7 linked regions of the Homo sapiens genome follow. The protein of the gene in region 5 interacts with the protein of the main gene of each other region in a pairwise test. Each region holds a gene or a part of one and is shown on either strand. Other genes may lie near its edges. The genes, in order: ERN1, MTMR6, POMZP3, SOX10, NMI, CNOT7 and GCSH.

The links.
Region 1: the proteins of NMI (region 5) and ERN1 interact in a protein complementation assay, tested with the Homo sapiens proteins (one study listed by BioGRID).
Region 2: the proteins of NMI (region 5) and MTMR6 interact in binary tests that used the Homo sapiens proteins (3 or more experiments, as listed by UniProt).
Region 3: the proteins of NMI (region 5) and POMZP3 interact in a two-hybrid assay, tested with the Homo sapiens proteins (2 studies listed by BioGRID and IntAct).
Region 4: the proteins of NMI (region 5) and SOX10 interact in a two-hybrid assay, tested with the Homo sapiens proteins (one study listed by BioGRID).
Region 6: the proteins of NMI (region 5) and CNOT7 interact in a two-hybrid assay, tested with the Homo sapiens proteins (one large-scale study listed by BioGRID).
Region 7: the proteins of NMI (region 5) and GCSH interact in binary tests that used the Homo sapiens proteins (3 or more experiments, as listed by UniProt).

Annotation. Positions count from the first base shown.
Region 1 is NC_000017.11:64,122,936-64,127,144, reverse strand, and holds part of ERN1 (serine/threonine-protein kinase/endoribonuclease IRE1 precursor), read left to right. Parts: intron 1-4,209. UniProt on the Homo sapiens protein: Serine/threonine-protein kinase and endoribonuclease that acts as a key sensor for the endoplasmic reticulum unfolded protein response (UPR).
Region 2 is NC_000013.11:25,252,681-25,256,889, forward strand, and holds part of MTMR6 (phosphatidylinositol-3,5-bisphosphate 3-phosphatase MTMR6), read right to left. Parts: intron 2,393-4,209; coding exon of another isoform or gene 2,342-2,392; exon of another isoform or gene 1,769-2,341; intron 1,755-1,768; coding exon 1,705-1,754; intron 1,285-1,704; coding exon 1,084-1,284; intron 1-1,083. UniProt on the Homo sapiens protein: Lipid phosphatase that specifically dephosphorylates the D-3 position of phosphatidylinositol 3-phosphate and phosphatidylinositol 3,5-bisphosphate, generating phosphatidylinositol and phosphatidylinositol 5-phosphate.
Region 3 is NC_000007.14:76,609,784-76,613,992, forward strand, and holds the end of POMZP3 (POM121 and ZP3 fusion protein), read right to left. Parts: intron 2,031-4,209; coding exon 1,939-2,030; intron 1,809-1,938; coding exon 1,682-1,808; 3' UTR 1,671-1,681; intron 433-1,670; coding exon of another isoform or gene 430-432; 3' UTR 203-429; downstream 1-202.
Region 4 is NC_000022.11:37,978,056-37,982,264, reverse strand, and holds part of SOX10 (transcription factor SOX-10), read left to right. Parts: intron 1-4,129; coding exon 4,130-4,209. UniProt on the Homo sapiens protein: Transcription factor that plays a central role in developing and mature glia.
Region 5 is NC_000002.12:151,275,841-151,280,049, forward strand, and holds part of NMI (N-myc-interactor), read right to left. Parts: intron 3,151-4,209; coding exon 2,988-3,150; intron 25-2,987; coding exon 1-24. UniProt on the Homo sapiens protein: Acts as a signaling pathway regulator involved in innate immune system response.
Region 6 is NC_000008.11:17,240,095-17,244,303, reverse strand, and holds part of CNOT7 (CCR4-NOT transcription complex subunit 7), read left to right. Parts: intron 1-681; exon of another isoform or gene 682-862; intron 863-1,118; coding exon 1,119-1,312; intron 1,313-4,209. UniProt on the Homo sapiens protein: Has 3'-5' poly(A) exoribonuclease activity for synthetic poly(A) RNA substrate. Its function seems to be partially redundant with that of CNOT8.
Region 7 is NC_000016.10:81,083,574-81,086,757, reverse strand, and holds part of GCSH (glycine cleavage system H protein, mitochondrial precursor), read left to right. Parts: intron 1-2,163; coding exon 2,164-2,295; intron 2,296-3,184. UniProt on the Homo sapiens protein: The glycine cleavage system catalyzes the degradation of glycine. The H protein (GCSH) shuttles the methylamine group of glycine from the P protein (GLDC) to the T protein (GCST).

The sequences.
Region 1 (4,209 bases), on a different chromosome or scaffold from region 5:
ACATTGGTATTATTAAGCACTTGAGGCTGTCTTTTGTTAATCCAGAATGTGCTTATTTAGTCAGTGAGTTTTTCCTTTCTTCCTAGACCTATATCTTGCTCCTAGAGTTGGTTAGGGTTACATCATCACTGTCAGCAGTCCTCATTTTATGGTTATTTAGGTGCCACATCTCTCAATTACCAAAGAGATCAGTACAATGTGAGGCAAAGTACCTTTTTTTTTAAAAGCTATAAGATATCAGATTTCTTTCATTTAGCCAATATTTTGGTTTTAGAGGGAGGTTTTTAAAAAGTCACCGAGAACTGAGGATCATGTGTGTATAGAAACACTGTAATCTGATAGATGAGTCTTAACTAGCAATGTCTTTGCTTATCATTTATTCTGACAGTGATCACCTGCATTAATTATCCTAATAGGCGATATCAAGTGTTTATACTGAGGCCATAAGTAGAATGTTCATTGAGTTTGTTATCAGGGCTGCTGATCATGAAATTAAACTGTAGTTGTGCACATGTGTATTGTTTCATTAACTTGCCTGCCTATTCAGCCTTCTGCAGTAATGTAGCTTCTCAGAGCACAGGAGAAAAATGTATCTGAGAGTTATTCGAGAGAGAGTTCAACAATAGCCCATATTTCCGAACATAAATCTAGTGAGCCGCATTAAAGTTTCTTCATGTCTGGATGGAATAGTGTCACTTGCATAGGTCTGAGGGTTTCATTATTTGCCTGCCCCAGATTTGGACTCCGTTTTTCAGGTGAAAGAATCCTTGGATAACTGTTTCATTTTCATAGGAAACCTCTTTGGTTTCGGGATCCAAAGTAATATGTAGGTTCAATATTTTGTAGGTTTTATAATCAAATGTCTCCCTAAAGAGATGACATAGGGAAGAAAAGCCTAATGTATCATCTTAATGGATTCAGTTTTTATTATGCACAAATAACTGGGCTTGTAACCTAGGAATATGATTAGAGCGTGATGCTGGCTTAAAAAATAGGACTGGTGAATCACAGTTTGTGAATAATAAACTACTGGTTGGAAATATTTCCCAGAAGCAGTTTTTTTTTTCCTTTCTATCTTTACCTATATCCCATGTTTGGTTTCAAACTTCCCTGCCTTAGAGCAACACAGCTGGTTTTAGACAGTCTTTCTATCAATATCTTATAATCTTTGCTCATGTACAAACATACAGCAAATACAACGGTATAAAAATACGATGTTATCTATTTTTGTTCACTTTTTCCCCACAGAACATCTTCTGTAACCCGGTAGAAAATGTTCTGAGTACACCATCACATTTGTCACTTTAGTAGCACCTTAGTAAACCATCATCCATGTAAAAAAACATTGAGCTTCTCAGCCGGGCTTGGTGGTTTGCGCCTGTAATCCCAGCACTTTAGGAGGCCAAGGCGGGTGAATCACTTGAGGTCAGGCGTTCGAGAGCAGCCTGGCCAACATGGCAAAACTCCGTCTGTACTAAAAATACAAAAATTAGCTGGGCAAGGTGGCATGCACCTGTAATCCCAGCTACTCGGGAGGCCGAGGCAGGAGAATCGCTTGAACCTGGGAGGTAGAGGTTGCAGTGAGCTGAGATCACACCACTGCACTGCAGCCTTGGCAACAGAGCGAGACTCTGTCTCAAAAAGAAAAACAAAAAACAAAAAACATTGAGCTTCTGTGCCCAGCCGTGGGTTGGGGACTGGGGTTATAACTGATCAGGGTTGATGTGGTAATAAGCCGAGCTTTGCCTGCCAGTCATCTTGCTGTGGCCATAGGGATCATAAAGAAAGGGGTATTTTCATTTTTTCAATTATTTTATGTTTGGTGCTTTCTGTATGATAACAGGGGAAGATATTTTTTTTTGAGGCATTATCTCAAAGTAATCATATTCATTGTAGAAAAGTTAGAAAGGATAGATAAGCCTAAATTAAAAAATAAAAAACAAGCCTTCTATTATCTTATTTTCCAAACATTACCTCTATGAAGATTTTAAACAATTTTATTGAGATATAATTCACCTATCATCACAATTCACCCATTTAAAGTGTACAATTCGGTGGGTTTTAGTATATTGACAGAATTCTGCAGTCATCACCACAGTCCATTTTAGAACATTTTCATCATCCCAGAAATAAACTTCATACCTATTAGCTGTTACACACCGTTTCCCCCCAAACCTCCTAGTCCTTGGCAACCACAAATCTACTTTCTGTCTATAAATTTGCCTATTCTGGACCTCTTATATAAATGGAATCATACATTATGTGGTCTTTTGTAACTGGCCTCTTTAACTTAGCATCATGTTCTCAAGGTTCATCCATGTTGTATAATAACATGTGTCAGTACTTTGTTCCTTTTTATTGCTGAATAATATTCCATTATATGAATATACCACATTTTATTTATCCATTGTATTAGTCCATTTTCATGCTGCTGATAAAGACATACCCGAGACTGGGCAATTTACAAAAGAAGTAGGTTTAATGGACTTACAGTTCCACGTGGCTGGGGAGGCCTCACAATCATGAAAAAAGGTAAGGAGGAGCAAGTCACATCTTACGTTGATGGCAGCAGGGAAAGAGAGAGCTTGTGCAGGGAGCTTCCCATTTTTAATACCATCAAATCTCGTGAGACTTATTCACTATCACAAGAACAGCACGGGAAAGACCCATCCCCATGATTCAGTTGTCTCCCACGGGGTCCCTCCAACAGCACATGGGAATAGTGGGAGCTACAAGATGAGATTTGGGTGGGGACACAGAGCCAAACCATATCATCCATCCATTGAGGGACATTTGGATTGTTTCTGCTTTGGGACTATTAATAATTCTGCCATGAACATTTGTGTACAAATTTTTGCGTGGACATTTATTTTCACTCTTCTTGGGCATATATCTAGGAAAGAGATTGTTGGGTCATATGGTAACTCTTTGTTTAACCTTTCAAGGAACTGTCTGACTGTTTTCCAAGGCAGCTGCACTATTTTACATTCCCACCTGCAATGTAGGAAGGAGGGTTACAGTGTCTCTTATACCCTCACTGATACTCGTTATTACCTATCTTTTTAATCTTAGCCATCCTGGTGGATGTGGAGTGGTAACTCATTATAGCTTTGATTTGCATTTCTCTAATAACTAATCTAATATCTTGACATATGTTCTTTCAGATGCTTTTTCTGTGCACATATTTACAGGTAATACTTTTCTTCCCCACACTGGAACATATAGATCTATGTCAATCAGCTTAATTCTGCAACATTATTCTTAATTGGCTGCGTAGTATTTCTCTGAATGGAATGGATGTACCATAATTTGACCACTCAATCATTTAGATATTGAGGCTGTTTTTATTTTTTTTTATTTTTTCACTACACAGATATGTTTTTATTTTCATTATAAAAATTATAACAATGTAATGAACTTTCTTGTTGCTAAACTCTTGAATGAGTTTTAAGTGCTTAGTTATTTCCTGGAGATAGATTCCTAGAATTGAAATTTGCTGATTGTATGTAGTATTTTACAGCCCTCTCCCCCAGCCCTAAGCAATGTTGAGTGTTTTAAAAACAAAACTAACCTTAAATTGTTTTTATGATAGGCGGTTTAAAGTATGCTATTTTCTTTTATCAGTGGCCACTTTCTTTTAGGAGCGTAGACTTTAAAAGTTGGATGAAAATAGAATGTTTACATTTTGTTTATATTTTGAAGATGTAAATAAACCAAGGCAGTCTCTGGATGATACCCTTTGTACCTAAAAGCTATTGAGAAAATGTTTTATTTGGATTTGTTAAATGACTCATTTGTGGGGTCCTTTAGTTTGCAGTGGTTTCAGATCAACTTTCTAGGAGATGTGGCACCCATGAGCACCCTGAAATACCTCGGGATAATTCTCTGGTTTTGAGGGTGGCCCGCCTCCTACAGATAAGATTCTTTGTATGGTCGGTTGTGAGGCCATTTAAAACTTTTGCCTTAAGACTTCATAAATCAGAGTTGATACATTGATTGTCCCTTTTGGAGGCTGCAGTTCTTAAAACATGTGGCTGTTTTTCCTAGGAATATTTAAGTACCACTTGATAATAAAGTACTACCTTTTGCTGGGATTATCTACCTGGAAAAAAAAAGGGAACAAAAAATTAAAAATAAAATGTAATATCTGTGGTGTTTTATTTTTTGTTTTGTTTTGCTTTTCCTGCAAATTTATTCTTCCAAAAAAAA
Region 2 (4,209 bases), on a different chromosome or scaffold from region 5:
AATGTTTGGCACTAATTAAGAATAGTTTTTCCTAAAATAGCTCTGTACTCCAGGAAAAGAGTTACCTCTGTGCTCCAAATTATAATAAACTATTTTGAATCACTGTAACATAGAGCTAAAGCCTCAATGTTCTTTGATTGTTCATCTCCACCATTCTCTATTCACTTTTTATTCCCTTTACGCATTTTTAGAATTTTCCACATGCTCTCAGTTCTGCTGTTTACTCTGTTGGGAGTGTGAGCATGTGGCTATCTTCAAATACTACCAGATTTAGCTTCCTTAATATGTCCCTTGGATGTTCAAAAGTCTGTTAAGTGCTCTTTATTGCCTACTGTAAGAGGCAATAAAGAAATCCAAACTCAGAAGCCCAACCTAAAACAATATACATAGGACCTCTAAGACCTACTCCAGAGATCTTCCTTACAGCAAAATTTAGGCAAAAACCCCTATCCCCGAAGACTGGTCAGGAAATAACATGAACTAGGGTCAAGTAGTGTCTCAGGGCTTTTCTGAGACCCTACTCAAGGACGGACACGCTGCAGCCAACATAGCTAGATTTATTTTCCCCAAAGAACTGTCTGTTTAGAAATGTGGGGAGAGCTATAAGGCTCCATCCTATCTTAAAACAAACCAACAGTTTAAAATATTTTACACTTTAAAACTAGCGACTGATACATTCTGGGAAATTAAACAGCATAAGGATTTCTCTGTTCTAAAATATATAAATGCAGACCGAAAAGAAGCATGAGGAGACTTTCCAGGGTGTTGACAACATTTCATATTCTGGGTGCTGGTTACATAGGTGTGTGAGTTTGGTAAGATTTACTGAGCTTCACACTTAACGCTCTATGTACTTTTCTGTATGTATGCTACACTTCAAAACACATTTTATAATGTGCTTTTACTATTAGCTGAAAGGTGGGGGAATATTAGAAGGGTACTCAGCTTTAGAAATACAAAAAATAAAATCTTTACAATAAACTTTCAAATTGTCAAGATATTTTATTAAGTTTCAAACATGATTTTTGTTAGACCTCGGCTAAGTAGGGGGAAAAGGAGACTCTTTTAATTGAATCATCTTACTTGAGCTCTTCTCTTTCCTTCTGACAATTTCCAAGGAAGTTTCCAAACTGGCATGAATGAATATGCTCATGGATCTGAAGAAGAAATGCTTCACTGAATTCAAAGGCTTGTGGAAACTGTTCGGTCAAATGCCACACACATTCCAAGAACTGAGTAAACACTGGTGAGACTTCCTTTGGGTCACCATCCAACTGGCCACACCTAACCCCACAGAAAGTATAAGCTTTTAAAAACACCTCTGAAAGGTCCATTGTTCAGGTATTGTTAATCTTAAACATACAAAAATATTCCTAAAGCACTGTTACATTAGCATGCAAAACTAGAATTTTTATTGAAACCATTTATGAGTTTTTAAACCACAGCTTTAAAGGATCTGTTACCATCTCTAAATAAAATGCAGCCCAAAAGGAAGGTAATAAATAGTCATGAAAATTAACAAGCGTACTAGAATTGAAAGAAATTACAGAAAAAAATTAAATGTCTTTACGTAAAATACAGTAAAAACCATGACACTCTTACCTCCCATCACGCATGTGAGTTCATAAGGAACAGAAACATTTTGGCATTCTAAACTTGGTTTACTAATTTTATAAAATATATGACTGTGTAACTGTGACTCACCTCTCTGAAAATTTATGTCCAAAAGAGATCCAATCCTTTTCTATTAAAACCTTAATGAGAAAAAGTAAAATTCACTTTCTGACTACTTTCAATTATTTTGTTTAGGCTGGATTAAATCTTATTAGTTTAAAAACAGTATTTACTGTACACTTTTAACTTATAAACAAAACAGCACAAAAAACCACAGGCAAAAGAATGCCAAAACCTTGATTCGAGGTGGGGTTAAAGAAGAATAAAAATGCATAAAAAGAAATAGAGTAGTTTCGTGACTTAAATTATTTCCGTTGAATTTATTACATTTTAAGTGAAAAGTACATGTTATAAAGCAGTATTACATTTAAGTTTTTGTATGTATGAAGATGATATATCATAGGAAAAAGGCTAGAAAAATGTAAACCAAAACTGCTAACAAAGGATAACTCTAGGTGGTAGACTGAGGTGGATATTTTAAAACTTTTGGCTTACTTGTACATTTTTTATATTATTTATATACTACTTTTTTTAAGAAAAAAAAACTAATGATAAAAAGACCAATTATTTTAATCAAATCATCTTACTTGAGTTCATGTTCAGATCCAAGTGTTAACATCTATCCTCTTGAATGGACTGACTTTATGTTTTCCTTGCCACAGCTTCTCTACTTACCCACTCCACTGTAAAAACAGATTTCTAACTTTTTCAGTCTAATCTAAACACATATTTGTAGTATTTAGTACACTTTATCACTTAACTATACAGTCACCAAGCACATTATTTTCATAGTGTCAAAACTGCTGGTTTTAGCTTCTCTGATTTTGTCTCAAGCCTCTGCTTTCCGCAGAAGGCTATACACTGATGTGGCTGAGGATGTAGTCGCTGGAGCTCAGGCACAGGCTCCAATCCCAGCTTCACCACTTTGTGTGACCTTGTGGCTGGAGCCACAGATTTTATTCTGGTCTCTCTGCCATTCTTCTACAAAACCATGTTTAAAGCATAACTCAATATCTTTCTCACTAAATGTATTCTTTGGCTTATCTCAGTGAAGAGCCAGAGAGCAGCACCATCCATCCTGGCACCTAATTCAGAAACTTGGAAATCATCCCAGAGGAAGACTCCTCTCTTCTATCCCACATCCAATCCATGATCAATTCTTCCTGACTCTACTTTCTTTTTTTTTTGAGACAGGGTCTCACTCTGTTGCCCAGGCTGGAGTGCAGTGGCGCAATCTTGGCTCACTGCAACCTCCGCCTCCTGGGTTCAAGTAATTCTTCTGCCTCAGCCTCCTGAGTAGCTGGGATTATAGGTACACATCACCATGCCCGGCTAATTTTTGTATTTTTAGCAGAGACAGGGTTTCACCATATTGGCCAGGCTGGTCTCGAATTCCTGACCTCATGATCCACCCGCCTTGGCCTCCCAAAGTGCTGGGATTACAGGCGTGAGCCACTGCGCCCAGCCACTGACTCTACTCTCTAAACATCCCTGGAACCCATCACCTCCCCCTTCACTTGTGTGTTACTATTTTAGTTTGGTAAAATTAAAAACTTTTGTCTCATAAGTTATCATAATAGTGTCTACACTCGCCTCCTAGCCTCCATTCCCACTCCCTTTGGCCTTCAAGATACCAAGCCACCTTTTTAAAAAGCACATCTAATCAAGTTACTGTTTGCTTGTTTAAAACTCTTTAATAGCTCCCATTATCCAAAGAGGGGAAAGCCCCATTCCAGCCTTCTCTTTCTCAGGCCCTGACCCCACTCTATTCCTCTGCCTCCAAGCCCCCTATTCTAATACTCACTCTGAACTCCATCCATCACACATTACCTGCAGTCACCCAAAGAGGTTATGCTTTGATTTACACTGTTCCTATTGCCTGGGAAGCTCTCACATCATCCCCATTTATTACATGATTTCATTTGGATGTCTAACAAATAATTAAAGCCAAACATGGCAAAGAAAATATTCCTTATCGTACACTCTCAAGGTAAGCTGAGCATTATTTTCTTATTAGCAGCACTCCCGCTTGGCCTGTCCCAGAGTCGGTATGTTAGCAGCAAAAAATAGCGGTGCTGAAAAGGGACTGGTGATTTTAAATCTTCCTTTGCTTTAAGATGGCACTGTATTTAATAATTCAAGACTAATGAAAATTTTCTAACATCTCTTCATTTAATTTACCATGAGTTAAGATGTAAATTTTGAAAACATAAGTTAATCTGCTCACACGTTTAAAAGCAAGCAAATAAAAATCTGATCATACCTTTAAAAGCAAAGAAACAAAAAAAAGGAACTAGGTCTTTATCTTCACAAAGGAGAAAATCTATTCAACTAGAAATTTTATCTTCAGATATAAAACATGCCTAATATGTTATTACACTTACTAATGCAGGTGTTTTAAATAGAAGGTTTCCTTCAGAATTTAATTTTAAGTACTCTTATTTGTGCATTGTTTTATTACATTATTTACATTTGTTAGATAAAAATGAGGGAGAAAATACTGAATATTTCCATTGCAACATTTTAGGAAAAAAA
Region 3 (4,209 bases), on a different chromosome or scaffold from region 5:
GAGTTTCCATGTTGGTTCCCATGGAGGTGATAGATTATAGTTGTCTAAGGACATGAACCCTGCCCTGTTTACAGTAGAGACACAGTAGTGCTTGCTGGACTATGCTATGTGAGTGCACGGGGCGGGTGGTATACAGTCGTCCCCACCCGACACAGTCAGTACTAATTCTGACCTTCCATCTGACCACCACACCACGACCAGATATTGCTTTCTTCTTTTATTCGGAAGCAGACACAGGGTGGGAGGCAGTGCGACACCTCCTGGTGAGAACCAGGATAACAGCAGTCAGAGTCAGGGACACCACCACAGCCAGGCCTACGCCCAGCAGCACCACTGAGGTGTCAGAAGGCAAAGCCCACTGCTCTACTTCATGGTCACCCCTCCTGTCCAGGAAGATCAGTGGCCCCACGGTGACATCTGCTTCTTCTGTCACTGTGAAAGGAGAACACACAACCAAGGGTCATCTTAGTCCCTAACCGGGAACTGGGTTGGAGGTTTTATTCTGCCTCAGTGGGCTAAACTAATATGTTGTCTTTTTTGTGTGGGCTAATAAACAGTTTCTAGACAAAAAAACACAGCTTTCTCGGCCAGGTGTGATGGCTTATGCCTGTAATCCCAGCACTTTTTGGGAGGCTGAGGCAGGCAGATCACCTGAGGTCAGGTGTTTGAGACCAGCCTGGCCAACACGGCAAGACCCGTCTCTACTGAAAATAAAAAAGTTAACTGGGCATGGTGGCACATGCCTGTAGTCTCAGCTACTTGGGAGGCTGAGGCAGGAGAATAGCTTGAACCTGGGAGGCAGAGGTTTCAGTGAGCAGAGATCGTGCCATTGCTCTCCAGCCTGGAGGACAGAGCTAGACACCATCTTGGTGCAGGGGAGGGGGAAGAAAAAAGAAAAAGACAGCTTTCTCATACGGAGAAAGCAGGTCACCCAAGAGGGATTCCCTAGTACATCATCTTTTTTGTAGAGACAGGGTCTTGCTATGTTGCCCAGGCTGGTCGAGAACTCATGGGGCTCAAGCGATTTCCCTGGCCTCAGCCTCCCCAAGTGCTAGGATTATAGGCACAACCCACTGTTCTGGCCAGATTATTATTATTTTTTTTTTTTGAGAGACAGTTTTACTCTTGTTGCCCAGGCTGGAGTACAATGGTGCAATCTCGGCTCACTGCAACCTCTGCCTCCCAGATTCAAGTGATTCTCCTGCCTCAGCCTCCCAAGTAGCTGGGATTACAGGCATGTACCACCACGCCCAGCTAATTTTTTATTTTTAGTAGAGATGGGGTTTCTCCATGTTGGTCAGGCTGGTCTCGAACTCCTGACCTCAGGTGACCTGCCCGCCTTGGCCTCCCAAAGTGTTGGGATTACAGGCCTGAGCCACTATGCCAAGCCAGATTATCTTAACAACTGCTATATTTCCCCTACATGCCTAATTATGTCTCAGTAGAAGCCTAGGATGACAGCAGATCTACCCTGGCTGCCACCGAGGTGGAAGGCTGAGAGCCCCCTCCTGCTTAACCCCAAGATTTGTGTTAGGGAAAGGTAGCTGCAGGCCTAGGTACAAACAGTTTTAATGGATGACAAGGGAAAATACCATCACCCTGAAATGACAGCAGGTACCCTCAACTGAGTAAGGGACAATGAACAGCCTCTTGGCCATTCTATGACATACCATGCCTGCGGTTACAGGGAAGCAGACGTGGACCACTGGCTCACGACACGAGGCTGCCTCCTGGAATGGCTTGGAGTGCCACAGTCACCTTTGTTACAGCATTGACAGATGTCAGCCAGGCCTTCCACTGGGAACCAGCTGAGATGAAAGAGAAGCAGCTTAGATTTTTGTTGCCTGCAGGAAGCAGTTTGCTGATAATATATTGGGGGAAATAGACAAGGGGTCGCCGATTCAGTTTCTACTCCAGTCACGGAGCACCTGTCCTCACCTGTTGGAAGGCTTGCTGAAGGAACAGGCCTTGTTGAGTTCATCTGGGTCCTGCTCAGCTAGGGTGACCTTCAGGTGGCAGGTGATGTATATCTGCAAGGAATAACAGCTATTTCCAGGCCGAGTTCCAGGCTGTGCCTGGGAGTTTAACACACCAGTTCTCTTATAACCCTCAACCCTTTAAAGAGTGAGAAGGGGCCGGGTGCGATGGCACACACCTATAATCCCAGCACTTTGGGAGGCCAAGGCGGGTATATCACCTGAGGTCAGGAGTTCGAGACCAACCTGGCCAACATGGTGAAACCCCATCGCTACTAAAAATACAAAGTTAGCTGGGCGTGGTGGTGGGTACCTGTAGTCCCAGCTACCTGGAAGGCTGAGGCAGGAGAATCACTGGAACCTGGGAGGCAGAAGTTGCAGTGAGCCGAGATCATGCCACTGCACCCCAGCCTGGCTGACAGAGTGAGACTGTCTCATAAAATAAACAGGGGGAAGGAAGAGCCTCATCTCTAAGATGGTGTAAAGGTTCACTTACCCAATGTTAGAGCAAGTAGCAACTAGTTTTAGACTGGAATCCACCACTTATTCCCCTGATCTTTTCCAAACTTACCCAATCATTGAACATGCTTGACCCTGGGCTTCTGAGACAGGGCCTGTCACCCAGGCTGGAGTACAGTGGTATGATGATGCCTCACTATAGCCTTGACCTCCTGGGCTCAAGGGATCCTCCCACCTCAGCCTCATGAGCAGCTGGAATTACGGGTACAAGCCACTACACCTGGCTAATTTTGGATTTTTTGCAGAGATGAGGTTTTGCCATGTTGCCCAAGCTGGCCTCAAACTCCTGGGCTCAAGTGATCTGTCCGCCTCAGCCTCCCAAAGTACTGGGATTACAGGTGCCAGCTATCCGTGCCTGGCCAGTCCTGGGCTTAACTCAGCATTGCTAAACCCGCGCCCATCCCCAGGTGACCGAGGTGAGTGGTAGACACCTTAATAGCTAGCAGCTTAGCTGGGTTTCTGACGCTGCCACCTGCCACTTGACTAGTTGACAAGCTACTTTTCTTCAGGGATGTAGTCACTGTATTGCCAGCTAAGGCAAGACCAAGTTGTTTCTGGGACCTGAGGTCCTTGGGCACATAAAGAAGCCTTTTGGACTTGCTTCTGTGGAGTTTCCATTTCAGACTTAAGAGGTTTTTTTTTTGTTTTTTTTTTTTGAGGTGGAGTCTTGCTGTTGCCTAGGCTGGAGTGCAATGGCACGATCTCAGCTCACTGCAACCTCTGCCTCCTAGGTTCAAGCAATTCTCCTGCCTCAGCCTCCCAAGTAGCTGGGATTACAGGCACTTGCCATAATGCCTCGCTAATTTTTTTGTATTTTTAGTAGAGACAGGGTTTCACCATCTTGGCCAGGCTGGTCTTGAACTCCTGACCTTGTGATCCACCTGCCTTGGCCTCCCAAAGTGCTGGGATTACAGGCGTGAGCCACTGCGCCCGGCCAGACTTGAGTTTGATGGCTCACTCTTTGGGCAAGCTTCCCTGGGCTTTTCTTCCTTGCACATACCTCTGCTATTAGTCAAGCCTACGTCAGTCTCCCTTCACCTGTAAGGGATATGACGACCAGAAGACTCACCAGGCTGATACCCTGACAGTCCTGGCCTCTGGGAAACGTTTACCCACCCTCGTTAGACAAGTACGAGGGAATGAACCCAATATGAGCTCCTGCTGGGAGCTGAAGGACCCCCCCCACCCAGGGAATAGTCAACTACCCTGTAAGCACTGCCCCCCTACCCTTTTTTTTTTTTTTTTTTCTGAGACGGAGTCTGTCTCTAGTCCAGGCTGGAGTACACTGTAGCCACTACCTCCGAGGTTTAAGCGATTCTCTTGCCTCAGCCTCCCAAGTAGATGGGATTATGGGTACCCACCACCACACCAGGCTAGTTTTTGTATTTGTAGTAGAGATGGGGTTTCCCCATGTTGGCCAGGCTTGTCTTGAACTCCTGGCCTCAAGTGATCCACCTGCCTTGGCCTCACAAAGTGCTGGGATTATTGGCATGAGCCACCGTACCTGGCCAAGCCTTCTCATTTTAGACTGACATTCCATCCTGCTGCTGGGGCTAGGGGCCATTCTGACAGAGCCAGGGCTCAGTCTAGCCTTGGCCCGTCCCCAGGTCAGTTTCCCTTCATATTTCAGGCAGGGCTAAAATTCCTCCCTGCTCAACCTCGGGCAGAGCATGGCAATTCTGCCACCTTGCAGCAGAAGCCTCAGAGCCACAAG
Region 4 (4,209 bases), on a different chromosome or scaffold from region 5:
TAGAAGTTGGTAGCAGAGCCAGGGCCAGAACCCAGGACTCCCATACTCTCTGTCCAGAGGACTTCCCCTGACCCTGGTGACAGTGGTGGATCACCTACACTTTGAGGAGTGGTCAGGAGGTTGGGGGGAAGCAAGAAGATGAGAACAAGAGTGAGGAGCATCTGGGTTCCAGAAAATTAGGGCTTTGTCAGAGGAGCCCGGCTCTCTTCCGCTGCCCTCCCCCTTGCCAGCCACAGTTGGGTAGAGATTGGGTCTAGAGGCTTAGAGTGGTAGAAGGTGCAGGAGGATCTCCAAGAGACCAAAAGATTCACATCCCGCCCCCTGGCCTGTTCTTGCCATGTGTTTGCTGAAGACCTGGTGCCCCTTCCCCTGCCCCTTCTCAGCCCTCAGTGCCCTGCTCACCCAGGGCAGGCCCAGGGCTCAGCGACCAGCCCGCTGTGTGGACCCAGACAGCCCAGTTCTGCCCAAGAGCAGAGGTCACAGCTAGCTCCTCCACCCAAGGTCCATCCAGATCTGGGTGGGGCTTGGCCCAGGCCAGTATCTTTAGTGCCAGGGGACAAAGAGCAAGTGAGAAACAGACAACCAGGAGAGACATACAGATAGGGCAGACTCTGGGGACCATGAGAAGACCACAGTACGAGCCCAACGAGAGTCAAAGCAAGGACGGACCTCATTTTCCCTCCATCTCCCATTGCCAAGGGTTTAAGATTGGCTCCTCCATTGTCCCTGTCCCCAGGTTCCCCCAGCCCAGAACCCTGGGCTTGGACTCCCTTCAGGAGGACTTATTCTTGGCCATCACTCAAGCTGTGTGCACAGGGGCCAGCCTGAGGTGTGGCAGTCAGGAAAACTGGCACTACTTGCTGAGGACCCAATCCCAATGGGAGGATGGGGCCAGAACCATGGCAAGGATCAAAGGCAATGCCAACAGAGGGTGGCTCCCTGGACCCTGGAGGGGGGTCCTGAGAGACATTTGGATTTGGGCTGGGCTGGCCAATTGCTCCAGGGGCTTCTCCTGAAACCTCCCCAAGCTGTGACTCCTGGGATGTCAAGAAGTGGGGTGGTTAGGTAGGCAGAGCTGGAAAACAGGTGTCTTAAAACCAAAAAGAGAAAGATACACACAGACTGTGTGGAGTGCCCCAAGGGAGTGTGGGATCAGACACACTGGAGCCCAGGTCCTAAGGGGCCGTGTCAGCCCCAACAGTCATTCTAACCTTTGATGCCCATCTGGGGAGGGGCTAGTTGAGGCTGATCACAGGGTGGTGCCTGTGGGTTGGCTGATCTGCCTGGAAAGAACCAGAGCCAAGAAACTGGAAAGGCGGACACAGGCAAGAGTCCCTCCTGTGTGGTGGGGGTCACCCAGCCTCTGTTCCCAGTGCCACAGGCCCCTTCCCCAAGTAGTCTTCTTATGCCCCTGGCCTAGCAGGACACAGGTAGCAGCAATCAGTGCCCCACTGTGGGAGGTCCCCGGTTGGGGTTTCCAGTTTGGGTGAGGAATCAGCCTACCTCTTCTTGCCCCCATTCCAAACCTGGGAGACCAGGGAGAAAGAGGGCTGACAGGAAGGTGCAGATGAGGACTGGGTTTGGAGTTAGAGCTGGAGGCGAAGTTGGGGGTTTGGGGCTGGTAATGTTGAGTGGGGACTGGTGCTGGAGATTGGGTTTACATGGTGGGCAGGCTGGGCTTGGGGTTGGGGTGGAGGTGGAATCAGCTGTCCGGCACAGCTGGTGGAGGAGGGAGCTGGGGTCGGGGATGGCAGTGGCCCCAGGCTTAGATTTCTGTCAGGGTTAGGCTAATGCTGGGAACTAGCTTAGGAGGTAGCAGCGGAATCCGATGTTGGAATCCTCTCTCTCTTCTGGCCCCTGTCACTTTCTTGCTGATGCTGGCTGCCAGCTGGGCAGGGGGCAAGGGAAGGATAGGTGAAAGAGTGAGCTCTGTGTCCCATGTCCCCAGCCATCCCAGAAGCCCCTCTGTTGGGGTCCACTGCTGGCGGAGCAGCTCTCTCCTCTGTGGGTTCTCCCCAGTCACACCCTCAAGGCCTGCTCCACCCCCTCCCCTGGTCCCAGCCGTCAGAGAGGGTGCCCACATCCCACTCCCTGACTCTCAAGGCCCTGCTCCGGCATCTTTGTCCTAAGTGTGTACACTGACTCTGACAGAGTCTCGGCTGGAGGGACCCTCTGAGAAAGCTGGGGCTAGGGCTGGGCTCAGGGCCGGGGTGGGGGGAGTAGACAGGGAGGCTAAGCCGCAGAGGAATGCTGCTGCCGGCTAGGAGGTGCCTGGCATGACCACCCCCGCCCAGCCTGGGGAGGGAGGGCTCGGCCTTCTGCTGACTGGGGGAAGAGGGCACTCACTGGGGTGTGAGGGGTGGGGCAGCTGAAGAGACAAGCCCTCTGGACTGACAGACAAGGCTGCTCCCACAAAGACTCATGGATTCTCAGTACCAAGGTCTGGGATTCTAGAATCTGGACTTTCCCCTCGACCCCCTCTGTAAGGTACCCCATCCTGCCCTCCTCACCCTGGGGCAGCCAAACCCTAAATGCCCTCCACCCTCCAACCCTGGCCTAAGGCTGGAGTCGGTGGCAAGGGCGCTGGCTTCAGGGCTTCTTCTCTCCATGTGTTGGTTTCAGGGACTGTTCCAGGGTCTGAGGAGAGGCTAGCTTCCTCTACTCTCTGCTATTTTCTGGACAAGGATATAGGATCCCCCACAGGAGGCAGTACCCCCCACCCAGACCCATGGTAAAGAGGAGCCACATCTGCCCCCTCAGTCCCACCACACTGGAATTCACACAATCAGGACCCAGAGTTAAGAGTCCAACCCTAGATCCTCCTGTCCAACCACCCCCGCAAGCAGCATTAGAAAAGCACCTCTTGGGGCCGGGCACGGTGGCTCATGCCTATAATCTCAGCACTTTGGGAGGCCAAGGCGGGTGGATCACCTGAGGTCAGGAGTTGGAGACCAGCCTGGCCAATATGGTGAAACCTCGTCTCTACTAAAAATACAAAAATTAGCCAGGCATGGTGGTGCGTGCCTGTAGTCCCAGCTACCCGGGAGGCTGAGGCAGGAGAATCGCTTGAACTCAGGAAGCCGAGATTGCAGTGAGCTGAGACCGCATCACGGCACTCCAGCCTGGGCGACAGAGTGAGACTCTGTCTCTAAATAAATAAAAAATTAAAAATAGAAAAGTACCTCTTGGGCTGGGCACAATGGCTCATGCCTGTAATCCCAGCACTTTGGAAGGCCAAGGCAGGCGGATCAACTAAGGTCAGGAGTTGGAGACCAGCCTGGTCAACATGGTGAAACCCCATCTCTACTAAAAATACAAAAATTAACCGGGCGTGGTGGCGCATGCTTGTAATCCCAGCTACTTGGGAGGCTGAGGCACAAGAATCACTTGAACCTGGGAGGCAGAGGTTGCAGTGAGCTGAGATCATACCACTGAGCTCTAGCATGGGTGACAGAGTGAGATTCCCTCACAGAAAAAAAAAAGAAAGAAAGAAAAGCACCTCTTCCTCAAGGTGCTCAGCCCGCTTCCCAGGCCCTGGTGCAAGGCATCTCACATCCATTATTCTGGCCAATCCCACACCCAAGTTAAGCCAATGTTATCATCCTTTTATAGGTGAAGAAACTCAGGCTCAGAGAAGTAATTTGCTCAAGGTCACACACACAGCTAGTAAGTAGCAGAGACTGAGTTCTCCCCCAGCCATGCTGCTTCTATTGCCCACCCTCAGTCCCAGGGAGCTCACCCCCACTGAAGTAGCCAATTCCACTTGCAGACAGCTTTGATGATGAGAAAGTTTTTCCTTTCCTTGAACTGGCATCTGCCCCTTGAAACCTCTACTCCTACTTCTAACTCCTCCTCAGGGGCTGCCAGGAGCAGCGGGCTGACCCCTCTCTCACCCTCCAGCCCATGAAAGATTTGGGGGCAGCCCTCTGAGGCTGTTATTCCTTGGGCCTCACATCTCTCAGTCCACAAATCATAGGGCACAGCCCCCACCCCGGGTCCTGTCCTCTGGGTGCCCCATCCCAGGGCCTCACATCTTCCAAGATGGACACTCAGAGGGAGGCCAACCTGGAGTGCTCTGGCATTCACGCCAGCCCCTCTGCTGTCCTCTCCGCCTCCCACCACACCCCAGGCTGCTGAACGAAAGTGACAAGCGCCCCTTCATCGAGGAGGCTGAGCGGCTCCGTATGCAGCACAAGAAAGACCACCCGG
Region 5 (4,209 bases):
TCATGCTTACCACATTTTGAGCAACTGAAAAATAATTCAGGAAGGAAGTATTAATTTCCAATATTTTAAGAATTGTTATGCTTTTGGTTTAAGAACAAATTATCCTGAATATTTTTAATTTTCTTTAATATTAAAGGGTCTAATTTTAAAAATTTGGCGGGCGGTGATTCCAAGTGATAATGGTCTTGCTACCAAAGTAGAATATATAATTTGGGGGGTCAGGGGGAAGGAGGACCAGATCTCATTCTGTCACTGAAGCTGGAATGCAGTGATGTGATCATAGCTCACTGTAACCTCAAACTCCTGGGCTCAAGAGATCCTCCCACCTCAGCTTCCAGAATAGCTATGATTACAGGTGCATGCCACCACGCCTAGCTAATTTTTTTAACTTTTTGTAGAGACGAGCTCTCACTTTGTTACCCAGGCTGCTCTGGAACTCCTGGACTCAAGCAATCCTCCTGCATCGGACTCCCAGACAAAGTTCTGGTATTATCAGGATGAGCCACTGCTCTTGGTCCCAAAGTAGAATATATTAATGTCAAAGTATATCAGCAAAATCACAATGTAGAAGTTCTCAAGTTCTAGATTCTTCTCATAAGATGAATCTTTTCTCTTATCTCTTAAGAGATAAGCCTAACAATCTTCCAGAATTCATATATTACTTCAGCTCAGCCACATACCCTTCCTTCCACTATTAACAATTACCAGAGGATTCCCCTAGTACATTAATGCACAGCCAGAAAGTGTCCCATGTTCAGTAAGCTGGGAAAACTTTCATGGCTAAGTGTCATTTGTACAATTAGTCTTGATTTTACTTAACCTTATCATTTGTTACTCCTTAATATGTTACAAGCACTAGAGCAATATATATTCATTTGCTCTGTCTTCTCAAGGATTACATGTTAAAGACTACATAGGCTGGAACATCAAAGAGTGAGTCTTTTTTTTGGTCATACTTAATGACGAATTCCACTTTTGCAAAAATGCTCTTGAAATCATTCTTTAAAAAGTTGATAGTCCTGCTATATTGATCACAAAGCTGTCAAGTCTAATTTACCTGTGCAAATGGGAGAGGTTTAGTAAAATGCTAAAAATCACTAGCACTCCAAAAGGCAACTCTATGTCAATTAAAAATGTGAGTGGGCATTTATTTTTAATTGTGTGGCATGAGTTTATAATACTGCAGTTGTTGATATTTGGGGCTGCTATTCCAATGTATCATGAAAATAAGTGACATTCACTCTCTGTCTTATAAAACTTCACATGTGTTTATGACAACCAGACCAGATGGCACCACACCACAGCTGGAGGAAGAGAAAAAAGGGCCAGAAGGCAGGGCCTTGGCCATGTGGGAATTCAACTCACTGTACCAAAATATGACTCTATAACTTGGATGATGGTTTTTTGTTTTTTTGTGTTTTTGTGTTTTTTTGCTAATGACAACAGACAATAACAGAAAATATCAATGAGTAATACTCAGATGATCCTCTTTCCCTCCCACTCTTCCACAAACCCCCAACATCTGGTGATCTGATACAGCTGAGAGGGACCGCTTGTGTCTCAATTGTTGTGACTCTGACAATCAAGAGCCAACTCCTACTTAATTGTGTTTCAAACCTACTGCTGTCCCAGGAGATTGGGAGCTCAGAGCCACGTCAAGCGTAGAAGCAATGATGTAGGTGCTTTTAGAGAATTCCATTTCCAACATTCCCAGGAAATTGCTGTGCAGAAATCCTGCCTCCCAAATCCTCATTTATATCTATCTTTTAGTTATATCCCGATTACCAGTCGCCAGTATGAGTCCTGGACTCCTCTTCTACCTGTAGCAGTAGCTCCAGGGTGAAGGAAAACACACTGGCGATGCATGTCTTCTACGCACAGATACTGTCCTGCTGGAATGCCTTTCAACATTTATTTTCAGGCTACAGTGGTGCACCAGTTTTGAGGAAACATGGGTTATAGACTGTCAGAATATGAGCACTGGAAGGGCTGGGAACACCATCTGGTCCCTCACCACATAACTTAAATAAAAGAACAAAGGCCTGGGCTGGTGGCCTACCGAGAGAAATATTGGCCCAGTGGAAGTACATGGACTCTCAGGGTTTGGCTCTAAGCTCTGCAACTAACCGTATAGACTTTAAGCAAGTTAATTATCTTCTTTAAGCTTCTGTATCCTTATCTGAAAAATTTCTAACATGTAGCAAAAACTAACATCCATTAAGTTTGTATTAAGTGTCCAACATTGTGCTAAGTATTTTATCAACATTTCTCATTTAATACTCAAAGCAGCCTCATGAAGTAGGTACTACCATGAAGCACCTGTATAAAACCCTGAGGTTTATAAAGAACCTATCCCAAATCATGCTTCTAGGAAGGGACAAGGCTGGCACTCAAAGCCAGATCCTCCCCACTCAGGAACCCCCAGCTCTGAACAGGGGCCCTCACCATGGCAGACTTAGCAAACATTAGGTTTCATTCCAAATCTCTAGCTCCCAGGCTCTTCTCATTCGTTGGCTATGTTCCCTTAGGTAAATCACTTAAACATCCTCAGAATCTGTTTTCTTGGCTCTGGCATGTCTATATTTAAAGTACACAATAATAACTATCCTATCCTCCTATATTTATGGAATTGTGTGAGTATAAAATGTGATAATGTCTCTGAGAACTGTACAGCTCTACTACCTTGAAATATTACTATCATTATTTGGAGGTAGCATGTGGAGTAGAAAGAGGCTGGTATTGGACATCATCATAGCACCTGGATTAAGTCCCACAGTCATGGCTTTCTGAATACAAGATCATATTCAAGGCACTTGTCTCAGAGTCAGTTTTCTCATCTGTAAAATGGGAATAATCATACCTGCCTCAGAACGTCACTATGAGGATAAGAAATAATATAAGTGAAGTAATATTAGCGAAGTAATAGCTAAATGTCTATGAAAGTGCTTTCCAAATAACATGGTCATATTTTTTAACATTAGTCATACCTTCTTCTTTTTCAAAGGTGATAAGTGCTTGTCCTTTTTGTATCTCATAAGGAACTTTCGAGCTCACTTGAAACGAACAGGAGATATTTGACAACTGGCTGTCATTCTCAGGAGTTTCAACTGATAAGAATTTCATCTTTGTTTCAGGAATATCCTCTTTAATCTAATCCAAATGAAAATGTTTGATTAAAATCAAGACGAGAAATAACTTAAGTCCTTCCAATGATAATGTAATTTGGTCATCCAATAATTCATTCCCCACTAATTTTAGAACCTTGTAGAATATTGAGTATGGTCTTATTTAACATTTTTAGTAATTGCTTTTTCCCATGTAAGTACTCAGTAATCAAATGCTGATCTTTTAATATCATTTCACAGATGAAATTAAAAATATATAATCCTCTCACTTTTTTCTAATCAATGTTTAAACTGTCAATATTGTATGGTGTTCAGTTCTAAAGCCTACATCATTCATGTGAATAAGGACTTTTTAAACAAGTGCCAATAATAGACTATCTCAAAAGGAAATCATTAGATAGTATGTTTAATTTTGCTGCAAAGTATGAAATATAGTGTTGGGTATAATATGGTATTTCAAATCCAGATAATTTCATCCAAAAAGAAAGACTCTAGAATTAGATAATTTTATTTATTTATTTATTTATTTTGAGACAGAGTCTCACTCTGTTGCCAGGCTGGAGTACAGTGGTGTGATCTCGGCTCACTGCAACCTCCACCTCCCGGGTTCAAACAATTCTCCTGCCTCAGTCTCCCGCGTAGCTGGAACTACAGGCATGCGCTACCACACCGAGCTAATTTCTGTATTTTGTATTTTTAGCAAAGACAGGGTTTCACCACGTTGGCCAGGATGGTCTCTTGACCTCATGATCTGCCTGCCTTGGTCTCCCAAAGCGCTGGGATTACAGGCGTGAGCCACCACACCTGGCCCAGAATTAGATGATGTTAAATTTATCAAATTTAAAAATTCCACCTTCCCCAACACCTGCCCATCAACTTTTTAACCATTACCACAACTTAGGTTTATAAAAAATGAGAAGGGACAGTATCAACAGAAATTGTAAGCTGAGGCTACACAGGTGGCTCACACTCGTAATCCCAGCACTTTGGGAGGCCAAAGCAGGCAGATCACCTGAGGTCAGGAGTTTGAGACCAGCCTGGCCAACATGGTAAAACCCATCTCTACTAAAAATACAAAAATTAG
Region 6 (4,209 bases), on a different chromosome or scaffold from region 5:
GAATATACTGTGTTACTAAGCAACTCTGCTTTTGCACGTGCTGTTTGGTCTGCCTAGATTGTCTATCCAGTTAATGATTTTTCTTCTTTACCATTATACTGTCTATATCTGTTAGCTACCCTACTGTTTTCTACATCCACTGGATTATTATTAGCTCCATAAACCAAGTGTTTTAATCCTTTCTCTCCCAACACCTAGCATAACACATATAGTATTCAATAAAGTGGCTGTTGAATTGCACTGAATTTAGAGAAATATTGATTTCTTTACTATTTCATAGTGACTTGATAGGTAGTTTTTATTCTTAGCTAGCCCTAGTTTGAATTCTAATACTAAACCGATGTATCTTTGTCTCAGTATTTTTAATAAAAATAAACAAATGCATTACTTTGGGGAGGAGCAAGTTGATTGGTTAAAATATGACTGTTTCTTTGTAGATGACATACTATTTGATAAAGGTGTACTTACCCATGATTAGAACTAAAATTGTTTTCTTAACCAATGGAAATTCATAGTGATCATTGATTTCTCAGATGATAAAGAGTGGCAACATAGAGAAGTGATAACATCCTACAAGAGTGAGTAGGTGGCATGCAATTCTTGACAGCATGCTTTCTGTGGACTATAGAGAGAATATTGTTTAAGCCAGAGAAATTAGGAAGCTAATGATGTTTTTCTTAGGGTTTTGGTGTTGAGAAAAACCTTGTGTCAGAGAAGCAATTGGAAAGTACAGGGCGTTTTCCCCTCTTTTGAACCAGTTCTTCAAGAAACTTGGTTTTAGCATTGGAATACTGTGAGCATCATTTCATGTATCCTTTGGGAGACAGGAATTTATGATTTTCCCCCCTTTCTTGGTTATAGAGTAAGTATTTGGTTAAATTTATCACATGTATCTCGTATAGTAACTTTTTGGATATATTTAAGGAAAGGTTATTAAGTTTATAGAGTTTTATGGTTCTAAAAAGTGATGTTCTTTCTAGTTAAAATATACTTTGTAATTGAATATAAATGTGTAGAATATCATCTGTAGGATTCTTTGATTTGCATCAAAAATTAAAAATGTGTGGATTGTAGTTTTGACTGTTTAGTACATAATGAATCTTAAAACTATTTTACAGGACACCGAGTTTCCAGGTGTGGTTGCAAGACCCATTGGAGAATTCAGGAGCAATGCTGACTATCAATACCAACTATTGCGGTGTAATGTAGACTTGTTAAAGATAATTCAGCTAGGACTGACATTTATGAATGAGCAAGGAGAATACCCTCCAGGAACTTCAACTTGGCAGTTTAATTTTAAATTTAATTTGACGTAAGTGGGAAATAACTGTATAACCCAGACTTTTTTTTTTTTTTCTTTAATCTTAGGAATTGATTTTCCTCAAGTATGGTGACATGCTAGGTGAATTTGGTGTAGTTATCCTGGAAATATATAAAACGTAACATTTCAAAAGCGTGGTTTTCTTTTTTACTATGGGACCAAAAAAAATACTTTGATGTTAAAGATGTTATATTTAAAATATGACTGCAGCTTTTTTTGTATTTGGAAGACTGGGTATTGAAAGTACTTCTGATAGAAAAAATAATCCTACATTAGTTTTACTTTCAAAAATTTTGTGTGCAATTTGAAATATAGCCTTTTATAATATTTATCCTTCTTGTGAAGATTTTTGTTGCATTCATATTCCAGTTTATGAGTAGATTACATGTCAAATGCAGTAAGACGTTTTCTGGAACCTTGGGTACGTTTTCCTTTCAAGTCAGTATTATCATTAGGTTGCCACTTCAGCCCACAAAAGCTCTCTTAATTTACATATAGGAGAAGTAGTAGTATCCTTGAACCTGGTGTTTATCATATGTCAGAATCTTCATTCTAACTCAAGCCCTGGGTCTTCACCCAGTTTCCTTAGTTATAATATTTCTGTATTATTAATAGAAGTAGTCTTGATAGCTAAGGGAAGTTTTAGATGTTTTTAGAGAGGGGCAGATTATTTGCAAACTAAGTTGGGTAAATAAAATAATACATTCTTATTACAGCAGGACCTCAAATGACATTTTCTTCAACATTGTTTCATGGTAACCTTCATAAAAAATAAAATTGATTCCTGACCCGGGCCACTACCTGAGTGGAGTGTGCACGTTCTCGTGTATATGTGGATTTTCTCCCGGGTCCTCTGATTTCCTCCCACATCCCAAGGCTGTGCACGTTAGGTGAAATGGTGTGGCTAAGTTGTCCCAGTGTGAGTGAGTAGGTGTATCTGTGTGAGTGCACTGTGCCACGGAACGACATGCTGACCAGGGTTGGTTCCCACATTGTGCCCTGAGCTGCCAGAATAGGCTCTGGCTTTCTTCACCCCTCAACTGAATAATGGAGCAAATAATTATCTTGTTTTTATTAATTGTTCTTAAATTTACATATAGCTCACATTTATTTCATTGTTTAATATTAGAAGTATTTTGGTCTTTATCTAGAAGTTTGATGATTTTTTTGTGACCAGAAATATGCCGTAGGAACTTAACTCTTGTTTTTATCAATTAGCCTGTGGTAAAAATTGGTTTCGTTATCCATCTTTTGGCTTAAAGTTGCAATTTCCAAGAACTTATTGATAACGTTGAGTGAGTACTTAACTGTATGTTGCAATATTGCATTGTTCTTCTGTTTGACATCCTACATTTGTGTCATACATCCTAATATCTGGTAGGTAAAATAGTGAAAGAAACTGTAGGCAATTAATGGTAGTGCCAATGTATGAATTCTTTCTTCCTGTTCTTTGTCAGATAAACAAAGATATTTAGTATACACAATTTTACGAAAGTAGGGCTTAGGAAAAGCAGAGTAATGATGCCTGTGGTATAGTAGTGTGGCTTGTAATTACACTGTGTTTAGCCTGACTCTCCATTTCACTCTTTTGGGTTTAATAATATACTCTCCATTTGGAGACCAAGGCAGGAGGATTGCTTGAGGCCAGGAGTTCTAGACCAGCCTGGTCAACATAGACTCTGTCTCTACAAAAAAAAAAAAAAAAAATGAAACTAAGCCAGGCATGGTGGCTGTGTACCTGTAGTCCTAGCACTACAGGTACAGGTACAGGTAGCTAGCACTACAGGTACAGGGAGGCTGAACCAAGTGGATTGCTTTAACTGAGGTGTTCAAGGCTATAGTGATCTAGATTGCACCACTGCACTCCAGCCTGGGCAACAGAGTGATACTTTGTCTCTAAAAATACCTGTATCTATACACACACGCACAGTCTACAGAACCTTGTAAAGTAAACTTGTCCAACCCTTGGCCCAGGATGGCTTTGAATGCAGCCCAACAGAAATTCGTAAACTTTCTTAAAACATTATGAGATTTTTTTGTTGTTGTTTAAGTTAGTTTATTTAATGTGTGGCCCAAGACAGTTCTTTGAGTATGGCCCAAGGAAGCCAAAAGATTGAACACCTCATTTATAAAGGGTGCAAAGTACTCCACTCAAACTGAAAACCTTTTATAAGAACTACATCTGTGAAACACTGAAAATTGCCTCCTATCCTTTTTCTCAAATGATAAACCTTTATTAAAATTAGTGCTTTACCATTTCATTTGTTCCATGTTAACTTTTTGTTCAAGTGAATTAGAACATTGTTTTTAAATTAGATACTATTGTGATCTCAGTACGTGAGAAGGAGGTAACCCATCAGCTTCTCAGTTTGGATAAAATTGACAGTTTCCTTTTCTAGAAACACCTTTGTTCGAGTAACAACTGCTTTCTTAGTACAGCCTGTAAGTGACATTTTTTCTTTCTTACTCAAAAATGACTGCTAAAGTTTACTACCAAGTTTTGCTACCATTTACACTAGGGGTGTCTAATCTTTTGGTTTCCCTGGGCCACACTAGAGGAAGAATTGTCTTGGGCCACACATAAAATACACTAATGCTAACAATAGCTGTTGAGCTAAAAAAAAAAAAAATCTCAAAATGTTTTAAGAAAGTTGACAAATTTGTATTGGGCTACATTCACAGCCATGCCGGGCCACATGTGGCCCACTGGCTGCAGGTTGGACAAGCTTGATTTACACTGATGTTAGGAGATGTTTAAGGAGAAGGATACAGTGAAAAACATTAGGTAGAAGAAGTCATTTGGAAGATAAACGAGTAATGCCTAATATAGAGAGAGCACCGTGAAGAGAATCTTGGAAATTTGGAAGAAAGATCAAAATTGACTTTTT
Region 7 (3,184 bases), on a different chromosome or scaffold from region 5:
GTAGATTGAATTTTTTTTCGATTAAATTTGGAGACTTCTTATTTTAGTCATGATTTCTTTCTCTTCCCACTTCATTCCTTTTTCCTTCTCTGATTTGAGACATGTTCGTCATATCACTTGATATTGTCCTATAGGGTCCCTAAGACTGTTAACTTTTCAGCCTTTTTTAAACTGTTCTTTTTTTTTTCTTCTTATTTTTTTGAGACGGAGTCTTGCTCTGTTGCCCAGGCTGGAATGCGATGGTGCGACATTGGCTCACTGCAACCTCCGCCTCCTAGGTTCAAGCAATTCTCCTTTTTCAGCCACCCAAGTAGCTGGGAGTACAGGCATGCACAACCACACCAGGCTAATTTTTTAAATTAATTAATTTATTTATTTCGAGGTTTTGGTAGAGGCGGGGTTTCACCATGTTGGCCAGGCTGGTCTTGAACTCGTGACCTCAAGTGATCTACCCGCCTTGGCTTCCCAAAGTGTTGGGATTACAAGCATGAGCCGCCGTTCCTGGCCAGTAGTTCAGAGTTCATAATTGTGTTTTTTTTGTTTTTTTTTTTTTTTTTTTTTTTTTTTTTTTTTTTTTTTTTTTTTTTTTTTTTTTGAGACGGAGTCTCGCTCTGTCGCCCAGGCCGGACTGCGGACTGCAGTGGCGCAATCTCGGCTCACTGCAAGCTCCGCTTCCCGGGTTCACGCCATTCTCCTGCCTCAGCCTCCCGAGTAGCTGGGACTACAGGCGCCCGCCACCGCGCCCGGCTAATTTTTTGTATTTTTAGTAGAGACGGGGTTTCACCTTGTTAGCCAGGATGGTCTCGATCTCCTGACCTCATGATCCACCCGCCTCGGCCTCCCAAAGTGCTGGGATTACAGGCGTGAGCCACCGCGCCCGGCCGTTTTTTTTGTTTTTGAGACGGAGTCTCACACTGTCACCAAGGCTGGACTGCAATGGCATGGTCTCGGCTCACTGCAACCTCCACCTCCCGGGTTCAAGTGATTCTCCTGCCTCAGTCTCCCAAGTAGCTGGGATTATAGGCGCCCACCACCACGCCCGGCTAATTTTTTTGTATTTTAGTAGAGACCATGTTGGCTAGGCTGGTTTCAAACTACTGACCTCAGGTGATCTTCCTGCCTTGGTCTTCCAAAGTGCTGGAATTACAGGCATGAGCCACCACGCCTGGCCCAGAGCTTATAATTGTTATCTGATACAGGGTACTTCACTGTCACTGGAACATTCTAAAGTTTTCATTTTGTTTTTTTCTGAGCCACAGCTAAGTTGCAAGAACATGGAGTTTTACTGAACCTACACACATCTGGCATTCAGGCACATCACCATTTGTTATTTACTGTGTCCAGGACACACAGATAGGTCCACTTTATTGAGACAATATATACCCTTCTCGTGGTTATTATAGCCTGACAAAACTTATGGTTTTATTTTTAATTAAAGAAATGTAGGCCAGGCACGGTGGCTCACGGTTATAATCCCAGCACTTTGGGAGGCTGAGGCGGGTTGATCACGAGGTCAGGAGTTCAAGACCAGCTTGGCCAACACAGTGAAACGCTGTCTCTACTAAAAATACAAAAATTAGCTGGGCGTGGTGGTGCGCGCCTGTAATCCTAGCTACTTGGGAGGCTGAGGCAGGAGAATGGCTTGAACCCGGGAGGCAGAGGTGGCAGTGAGCCTAGAACACACCATTGTACTGTAGCCTGGTGACAGAGCGAGACTCCGTCTCAAAAAAAAAAAAAAAAAAGAGCCAGGTGCAGTGGCTTATGCCTATAATCCCAGCACTTTGGGAGGCCGAGGCGGGCGGATCACGGCATCAGGAGATTGAGACCATCCTAGCTAACACAGTGAAACCCCGTCTCTACTACAAATACAAAAAATTAGACGGGCGTGGTGGCAGGTGGGCGCCTGTAGTCCCAGCTACTCGGGAGGCTGAGGCAGGAGAATGGCATGAACCCTTGGGAGGTGGAGCTTGCAGTGACGTGAGATTGCGCCACTGCACTCCAGCCTGGGCAACAGAGCGAGACTCCATCTCAAAAAAAAAAAAAAAAGAAATTTGGAATTTTAAAATCATAGCTGTATGACAGGAATCTACTTTTTCGTATTTTATGTTTTCAAGTAACTGACTTTTAACATTTCATGTTTTCTTTAATTTTTTTTCCACTTAGATGAGTTTGGTGCTTTGGAAAGTGTGAAAGCTGCTAGTGAACTCTATTCTCCTTTATCAGGAGAAGTAACTGAAATTAATGAAGCTCTTGCAGAAAATCCAGGACTTGTAAACAAATCTTGTTATGAAGATGGTAAGCTGTTGCTAGAAATTTCTCAAGGAATTACTACTACAGTAAATATTTTATCTAGAATTTAAAGCAAGTTTAGCTGATTGTGACTTCATCTTTTTCTACTTCTTGGTACTAAATAGAGATGTTCTGCTTTAAAAGAAAAACAGAGGTTAGTTGAATACTTAAAGTTATGTTTAAGATTTCTGGCTAGGCGCAGTGGCTCGCGCCTGTGATCCCAGCACTTTGGGAGGCCAAGGTGGGTGGATTGCTTTAGTCCAGGAGTTGGAGACCAGCCTGGGCAACATGGTGAAACTCTGTCTCTATAGAAATACAAAAATTAGCTGGCTGTGGTGGAATGTGCCTGTAGTCTCAGTTACTAGGGAGGCTGAGGTGGGAGAATTGCTTGAACCTGGGAGGTCAAGGCTGCAGTCTATAGTGAGCCAAGATCGCACCACTCCACTCCAGCCTGAGTGACAGAGCGAGACCTTCTCAAAAAAAGAAAAAAAAATCTCTGATGATAAAAGCATTACCTTATTTTGCAGTTTCTTGATATCAGTTGTAGATTCTTTGGTTTTGGTGTAAACATCTGCAAAGTATTTACTTTTTCAGACATAAAGCAGCCACTCATATTGTGTGACATGGGAGGTAAAAAAATATATATTTTGCATTAATTTTTGGTTTTCTCACATTTTCACCCTTATAATCTAATCAGGTAAGCTAACAGCAATTTTCTCTATTTTGTAGATGAATAGAGGCTCCAAAGGATTTATCTGTCAGGGTCTCATGGCTGATAAATGGCAAAGCTAGGATTAGGTTGTAGTTCTCTTTTGTCTGTCACCTAGCCCTTCTAATTACTACTGCTTTCTAATCCCGTTAACCTCAGTAGTTAGTGTTCCATTTGTTAAAGACA